Linked DNA regions of Homo sapiens: region 1 is linked to region 2. Evidence: fine-mapped expression QTL. A gene starts in region 2. The other region holds a variant in brackets. All regions are shown on one strand. Distances are between the middles of the regions.

Region 1 (4,400 bases), 79 kb after region 2:
ACTCAAACAACTCAATGGCATAAAAAAACCCAAATAATCTGATTTTAATATTGGCAAAATATCAGAATAGACATTTCTCAAAAGAAGACACATGTAAGTGGCCATAGGTATATTTAAAAATGCTCAACATTACAAGTTATCAGGGAAATGTAATTAAAACCACAGTGAGACATCTCACCTTAGTCAAAGTGGCTATTATCAAAAAGACAGAAAATAAGAAATGCTAGCAAGGACTTGGCAAAAAGGCAATGCTTGTACTCTGTTAGTGGGAATGTAAATTAGTATAGCCACTATGGAAAACACTTTGAAGATTCCTCAAAAAACTAAAAATAGAACGACTATATGATCTAGCAATCCCACTACTGGGTATAAACCCAAAAGAAAGGAAATCCGTATAATGAAGAGCTATCTACACTCCCATGTTTATTTCAGCACTATTCACAATGGCCAAGATTTGGAGGCAAGCTAAGTGTCCATCAATGGATGAATGGATAAAGAAAATGGTTTATACACACAATGGGATATTATTCAGCCATAAATAAGAATAAAATCCTGTAATTTGCAGCGCATGGATGGAACCAGAGGACATGATGTGAAGTAAAATAAGCCAGGCACAGAAAAACAAATTGCATTCACATTTCTCACTCATATGTGGGAGCTAAAAAACTGATCTCATGGAGGTAGAGAATAGAATGGTGGTTGCCAGAGGATGGAAAGGGTAGTGGGGGCAGTGGGGATGAAGAGTGATTGGCTAATAGGTACAAAAATAGTTAGATAGTCCTGGTGTTCGACAGCACAAGAGGGCAACTGTAATTAACAATAATTTATTGTATATTTCAAAATAGCTAAAAGTGAAGATCTAGAATGTTCCCAACACAAAGAAATGATACATGGTTGAGATGATGGATATCCCCATTACCCAGATTTTATCATTCCACTTTTTTTTTTTTTTTTTTTTTTGAGACAGGGTCTCACTCTGTCACCCAGGGTGGAGCAGTGGCACAATCATGGCTCAATGTAGCCTCAATCTCCTGGGCTCCAGTGATCCTCCTACCTCAGCCTCCAGAGTAGCTGGGACTACAGGCACGTGCTACCACACCTAGCTAAGTTTTGTATTTTTTTGTAGAGATGGGGTTTTGTCATGTTGCCCAGGCTGGTCTTGAACACCTGAGTTCAAGCAACCCACCCACCTAAGCCTCTCAAAGTGCTGGGATTCAGGTGTGAGCCATTGCACCCAGCCTGATCATTACAGATTGTATGCATGTATAAAAATATCACATGTACTCCATAAATGTGCATAACTATTATATAGCCATAATAATTAAAAATTAAAGTAATTAATTTTTTAAATAGCTAGCCAAGGTGACACATGCCTACAATCCCAGCTATGGGGAGGCTGAGGTGGGAGGATCACTTGAGCCCAGGAGTTCAAGACCAGTCTGGGGAACATAGCGAGATCCTGTCTCAAAAAATAAAAATATCAAAAAAGCTTGTGGATTCTGAAGCATTATACTTGATGTGGGATTTTCACCCCGTCTCCTGTTGCCCGTTTTCCCCCACCTGCAATTCATCTTCCACATTACCTCCAGAGCAACTGTTCTAAGCACAGATTTTATTTCATCACTCTCTTCCTTAAAATCCTTTGATGGTCCCCATTTTCTTCAGGATGAATTCACATTCCTTAGTACCACCCAGCAGGCAAGTCCTAAACTGGCCCCTGCCTGCCTCTTCGGCTTCATTCCCCTGTCACTCCAAAGATGCTGCAGCCCTTTAGAACTACTTTTGTTCTTAGAAGTTAATAATGTCTCATATCCATACCTTTACACCAATGGCATCTTTTCCTTAAGAAACAAAACAAACAAAAACACTCCCCTTCCTTTACTCAGCCATCTCCTTCCAGACCAAGCTCAGGTATCACACCATCTGAGAAAGTGTGCTTGGCACTGCATTCATCACAACACATTTCAAGTTTGCCTACTTGCCTGTCCACCTCCCTGCCTGGACTATGAGTTCCTCCAGAGCAGAAAGCAACTTAAATATATTTGTGT[CT/C]TTTTTTTTTTTTTTTTTGGAGACAGAGTCTTACTCTGTTGCCCAGGCTGGAGTCCAGTAGCACGATCTCGGCTCACCACAACCTCCATCTCCCAGATTCAAGTGATTCTCCTGCCTCAGCCTCCCAAGTAGCTGGGATTACGGGCACCTGACACCACACCCGACTAATTTTTGTATTTTTAGTAGAGATGAGGTTTCACCATGTTGCCAGGCTGGTCTCAAACTCCTGACTTCAGGTGATCCACCCACCTCAGACTCCCAAAGTGTTGGGATTATAGGCCTGAGCCACCGTGCCCAGCCCTTTGTGTCTTTAGTCAACAGTAGACAACCTGGCTAATATAGTTTGCCTGTGTCCCCACCCAAATCTCATTTTGAATTGTAGCTCCCATAATCCCCATGTGTCATGGGAGGGACCTGATGGGAGGTAACCGAATCATGGGAGTAGGCTTTTCCCATGCTGTTCCTGTGATAGTGAGTAAGTCTCACAAGATCTGATGGTTTTATAAAGGGCAGTTCCTCTGCACATGCTCTCTTGCCTGCTGCCATGTAAGATGTGCCTTTGCTCCTCTTTCCCCTTTCACCATGATTGTAAGGCATCCCCAGCCATGTGGAACTGCAAGTACATTAAAACTCTTTTTCCTTTTTTTTTTTTGAGACAGAGTCTCGCTCTTGTCGCCCAGGCTGGAGTGCAATGACACGATCTTGGCTTACTGCAACCTCCACCTCCCAGGTTCAAGCAATTCTCCTGCCTCAGCCTCCCAAGTATCTGGGATTACAGGTGCCCGCCACCACACTTGGCAAATTTTTGTATTTTTGGTAGAGACAGGGTTTCACCATGTTCGCCAGGCTCGTCTTGAACTCCTGACCTGAGGTGATCCACCTGCCCCGGCCTCCCAAAGTGCTGGGATTACAGGCATGAGCCACCATGTCTGGCCTAAACCTCTTTTTCTTTATAAACTACCCAGTCTCGCGTATGTCTTCACAGCAGTATGAAAATGGACTAATACACTGGCCCAAAGTGAACACCTCCATAAGCCTGTCACATGAACAACTTCTGAAAATTTGCTTTAGAAGCTTTATCTAATTGGGAATTAATGAGAGACAGAAATGAAGTGAGAAAATGAAGGGGGGGAAAAAGGTTTATCAAAGGAAAAAGAAAAACTAGAATCCTAAAAAAATGAAGCAATTTTGAGAAGTAATCTTAAAGTGGGCAATATGGTTTTTAGTCTGATCATAGAATGAGTTTCACTCCCTGAATGAGTGTGACCTGACCTGGTCTTTCTGAAAGATCACTTTTTCCTGTGTAATTTAGTATGCATACGAATCACACATAGGCTGACTAATCAACTGCTGAAGATTCTGCATCTGTATCGCAAGATGAGAACAATCTAAAGAACAGCAGAAATTTTAAAAAGATATATCATGAATATATATAATCTATTATAGTTACACCTGTTATATTTTAGAAGGAACTATAGGAAGCCTACATATATTAGTATACAGTACAAGCTATATTAAATAAAGGACTTGCTCCCTCTGATTTCATAGCAATCATAACACAGCACACCAAGGTCAAGAAATCACTGTGAGTTCTCCTGTTCTGTATTTAAGGAAAGATTAAGAGGCATAAGCTCACAGGGTGGTCTCCTGTCCTTTCTTCATGAGCACTCTGGCCACATGGAAAACAATCCTGAGATGGGACAGTTGGCACTTAATTAGCTGAACGCCTAGGACCAGCCTCTACGCAAGATGTCTTACATACATTAGGCACCTCACTTAAACTACTCTTCCTAAGTTCAGTCACAATCAGCAACAAAAATAAATTTTGATGCTTATAAGTATTCATTCAACAAATATTCACTTAAGAACTACAAGTAGGGTCTGCGAGAGCAAATGAACTTGTCTATCTCGCTTACTTTTGTATCCCAAGATGTTGGTGGAGTGCCTAGCACATAATGGAACATAAGGACTGGAGGATTTTGCCTCTTAAGCCTCTTGAATCTGTCCATTTCTCTTCCTATGTCCTTCCACTGACCTAGTCCCAGGCCAGTCCTGTAGACTAACTGCCCTGCAGCCATTCTTGCCCCTTCTAATTCCGGATTTCTCAACTTCAGCACTATCGACATTTTGGGCTGGATGATTCTTTGTTGTAGGGGCTGTCCTGTGCACTATAGGATGTTTGGCAGGATCCCTGGCTTCTACCCACTAAATGCCAGTAGCATCAACCCCATGCCATGCCCCAGCTGTATCAACCAAAAATGTTTCTAGACATTTGGCAAAATCACACCTAGCTAAGAACCACTGTCCTAGAGCTGACTTGACCTCCTCTGTCCTCAGCCTCAGCAATTCTT
Region 2 (4,400 bases):
TATTATTTGTTAGCAACTTTTCTTGAAGTGCTTTATCTAAGAAACAAAAATTATTTTGAACACGTTACCCCATATCTTCAACTACTCCTGCAGAAGACCTTTTCTTCCTACGTTTCTCAATGACTGCAGTCTTCCCTGTATTGACAATTAAAAAAAAAAAAAAAAAGCTTTTGAAACTGAATAGGTTATTTTGGTAAATTTTAATGAAACATCTTCATTTGGGGATTTTTAGGCTTTTTGCCAACATACAGTTTCAAAGCAGACATAAAAATGCAATATTCTCTGCAGGTTAGGTGAAATTAAATCAGGATTCAGGACCATTTTATAGGAATAATTTTTCAAGTCTCCCTGGGTTAATGTCACAGTAAGCCACATACTATATATCAGATATTTTGGAAATAACTGCAAAAGCAAGAGTTGCCGAATAAGCTTCTGTAACTCCGATACTGCAATATAAGGATCAAATGAGAAACACAAGTACAGCTGGCCATCCGTGTCAGCAGGTTCTGTAACCACAAATACCGGGGGAGGGAAGACCATACCTGAAAATGCTTTACAAACTAAGTTGTACGATAGTCTCAATGGGTTCAAAACAAATGAACTGAAGGACATCACTGCCCAACATGAGATGTACTGCACCTTCAATAACATCTTCCTCTGATCCACTCAGATCTTTCTTATCTTCAGTCTCAAAGTCATAGGCTCTCGTAAACTGATCTTCCACAGACGGCTTCCCAGATTTCCTGGAATACTTTTTTCCGGAGGACACCATATTTAGATGCTTCCTGACTTTAAAAAACAAATTTCTTTAACCTTCTGAATGCAAAGACATCATTTTAATACACTGGTAAAAGTTTAAATATCAAAGGAGATATCGAACAAGGATTGTTGAATACAATTTTAACAGTTTCCTCATTTATTTGGGGGGCCAAAAGTTAAGAAGATAATGACATTTGTTAAAAAATAATAAAATAAATAGGCCAAGCACGGTAGCTCACGCCTGAAATCCCAGCACTTTGGAAGGTTGAGGCAGGCAGATCACCTGAGGTCAGGAGTTCAAGACCAGCCTGGCCAACATGATGAAACCCCGTCTCTACTGAAAAAAAAAAACAAAATTAACCGGGCGTGGTGGCACGTGCCTGTAGTCCCAGCTGCTCAGGAGGCTGAGGCAGGAGAATCGCTTGAACCCGGGAGACAGAGGTCACAGTGAGCCAAGATCGCAGCCACTGCACTCCAGCCTGGGTGACAAGAGTGAAACTTCGTCTCAAAAAAAAAAAACAACAACAGAAATGGCCGGGCGCTGTGGCTCATGCCTGTAATCCCATCACTTTGGGAGGCCGAGGTGGGTGGATCACCTGAGGTCAGGAGTTTGAGACCAGCCTGGCCAACATGGTGAAACCCCGTCTCTACTAAAAATACAAAATTAGCCGGGCGCGGTGGCGGGTGCCTATGATCTCAGTTACTCAGGAGGCTGAGGCAGAAGAATCGCTTCAACCCGGGAGGCGGAGGTTGCAGTGAGCTGAGATGGCCCCACTGCACTCCAGCCTGGGCGACAGAGTGAGACTTCGTCTCAATCAATCAATCGATGAGAGAGAATGACAGTGTCCACCCCGACTCCAAGCGCGCAGTGCTGGAGAGGTGGCCCCTGAGGCCTGGGAGTTCCAAATTTTGGGGCCGCCTCTGCCAGATTCTGGCTAAATCTGGGCAACTCTAGCAGGGCGCTCAGTCACGCGGGGAAATTATAGTTGCTGGCGGGACACGACATGAGGATGCCAGAAATAAGCTCATAATAATCAAGACAAATAATAAAAACGTCCCGCAATTTAGGTCTCGGAAAATGAACACAGGCAGAAGATTTCGACAACAAATACATCGAGGAACCACGAAAGGCGCCCTCGGCGTGGAGCGGGCAGGAGGGAGACGCGCGGAGCGAGGTAGGGCCCTGCCCGGCCCCGCCGCGTCCCTCCTGTAAGTGGTCCCAGGGTGTAGCGATGGGGCCCAGCCCCAGCCCAGCCCGCCCGCTTTCCACTAGGCCCTATCCTGCTCAAGGCCCTGTCCTCAGGTTCGCGGCCTCCGTTTTCTCGTCAGAGGCCCCAGGCGACGCCAGGAGGTAAGATTTACCTCACTGGTCAAGGGCAGCCTCTGGCCTGGACACCTGCGATAGACAGACGCCTCCCCTGCTCACACCTGAAACACACCGCAATGGCCGAGGACCAGTTACTGGTCGTCGACAGGCGTCCTCCACAACTCCTCCACAAGCGCGCTTCACCTGAGGTGGCCCCTTCTCCGCGACGCTTCTGAGGCAAGCTGGGATTCGCACAGGAGAAAAGCCAGTCCCGCCTCATCCGGACACGTCGCTGATTGGCTGGACGCAGAGCGCAGGCGTGAACTGGGTGGCGAGGCTCCGCCCCCATGGGGCGATTGCGCGCCCAAATAGCTGGCCCAGGGTGCTTTGGCCGCCGGAGCGGGTTGCGAGTACACTTGAGGCCTGGTGCCTTCCAGTTTTTAAGTTTTAAATGTTTATAATCGAAAATTGCAGCTAGGCGCAGTGGCTCACACCTGTAATCCCAGCACTTTGGGAGGCCGAGGCAGACGGATCACTTGAGGTCAGGAGTTCCAGACCAGCCTGTCCAACATGGCGAAACCCATCTCTACTAAAAATACAAAAATTAGCCGGACGTGGTGGCGGGCGCCTGTAATCCCAGCTACTTGGGAAGCTGAGGCAGGAGAATCGCTTGAACCCGGGAGGCAGAGGTTGCAGTGAGCAAGACCATGCCATTGTACTCCAGCCTGGGCAACAGAGTGAGACTCCATGTCAAGAAAAAAAAAAAGAAAATTGCGGAATAATATGTAAATTATGAAACATGATGAACATACCACCTAATTTATGAAGTAGGGCTTTACCAACATTCACTGAATCTCCTCAGGCAGGCCTTTCCATCCGATCCTCACCAGGACCCCACCCTTCCCCATTCAGGGATATAAGAAAATTATCCTAAATTTATGTAAATCATTCACCCTTCCTTATTTTCTAAGTTTTATTACCACATGAAAATGTGTCGTTAAACAACACGGCTTAGTTTCGTTCGCGTTTGGCATTACAAAAAATTGTCCCATAGTCTATGTAGTGTTCTGACAGTCCACTAGAATGGCAAAACTACAAAATATGACTACACGGAGTGATGATGAATCTATGTAACAAAGGGAACCCATTCAGTGGGTGGGAGTATAATTGTAAAACAATTATTTGGTGTAACTGGAAATCACCTATCAATTGCAAAACAATTTTTGAAGATACAATTTATGAAGGAAATGAAACTCACCTATAATCCCACTACCCAGAAATAATATACAGTTTAAAATTGGGGGTATTATTGCCTTTCATCCTTTTTTCTGTGCTTATATGTATTTTCCCCCAAATAATTTTAAAATATATTTCAACCTTTGTACCTGCCTTAGTTTGCTCACAGCTCTGCAATCCTTTTTCTATTTGAAATCATACATTTTACTTTTTTTTTTTTTTTTTTTTTGAGACAGGGTTTTGCTCTCTTGCCAAGGCTGAAGTGCAGTGGCATGGCATGATCACGGCTCACTGCAGCCTTGATTTCCTGGGCCCAAATGATCCCCCTGTCTCTGCCTCCTGCGTAGCTGGGACTCATGCACGTGCCACCATGCCTGGCTAATTAAGAAAAAAAAAAAAAAAAAGTTTGCCGAGATGGGGTCTCACTATGTTGCCCAGGCTGTTCTCAAACTCCTAGGCTCAAATGATCCTCTCACCTCGGCCTTCCAAAGTGCTGGGATTACAGGCATGAGCCAACTTGCCTGGCCTATATTTTACTTCTTTAATATTTGGCAAAGGCTTCAGGATCTTATTGACGCCAATCACTTTTCAACTGCCTAGTTCAAGTAAGAGATTCAAAGGAACCCTCCTGTTTACTGTTTTGCTTTGAATCCTCTTCCTTATGATGCTCAGCATTCCACTGGCTCGTTTAAATACACCAGTGTATTGGGTAAGGAATGACGGATGACGACTCCCAGACTTGTTCCTGTAATTCCATTCACTACATCAAACCTGTTGATACAGGATACAGTGAACCTTGTAAATTTTTCATTACTGAAAGGATTCAAAAAAGTTTGTAAAGCGTTAGTACAGTACCTGCCACATAATAAATGTGCCATAAATGGTGGCTTTTATGATTGACAATTGGTCCCAATTGGAATCCTGCTTTTCCTCTCTTGCCAGCCTCATTCTTGGCCTCATACTGCATCAGCCACATTGCGTTTTCCCAAATGTGCTGTGCACTCTTATGCCTCCATACCCTTATAGATGCTGTTCTTATTAAGTAGTTCCATTCACTACATCATCATATTCAGTTGTTTTTCCTACAGTGACCCTTACA

Which allele goes with the higher level. Alleles are on the strand shown, and positions count from the first base shown. SD is a standard deviation of normalised expression in the study named.
As copies of C replace CT in region 1, the expression in CD4 T cells of the gene that starts at base 2,299 in region 2 goes up (moderate effect, 0.64 SD a copy in BLUEPRINT).

What was found. PIP is the estimated chance that this variant, and not a neighbour inherited with it, causes the effect.
Region 1: its variant is fine-mapped to the expression of SYCP3 in CD4 T cells (BLUEPRINT, PIP 0.95).

Annotation. Positions count from the first base shown.
Region 1 is chr12:101,816,328-101,820,727 of GRCh38, forward strand. The region is part of intron 1 of GNPTAB (N-acetylglucosamine-1-phosphate transferase subunits alpha and beta); the gene reads right to left. Among named protein-coding and RNA genes, the nearest start is that of GNPTAB, 12 kb to the right of the region's middle. The variant CT/C (reference allele first, on the strand shown) is at 2,049.
Region 2 is chr12:101,737,164-101,741,563 of GRCh38, forward strand. It overlaps SYCP3 (synaptonemal complex protein 3), which reads right to left and starts at 2,299. Exons shown (of 9, transcript NM_001177949.2): 1 at 2,188-2,299; 2 at 640-789; 3 at 69-135. The coding sequence starts at 772.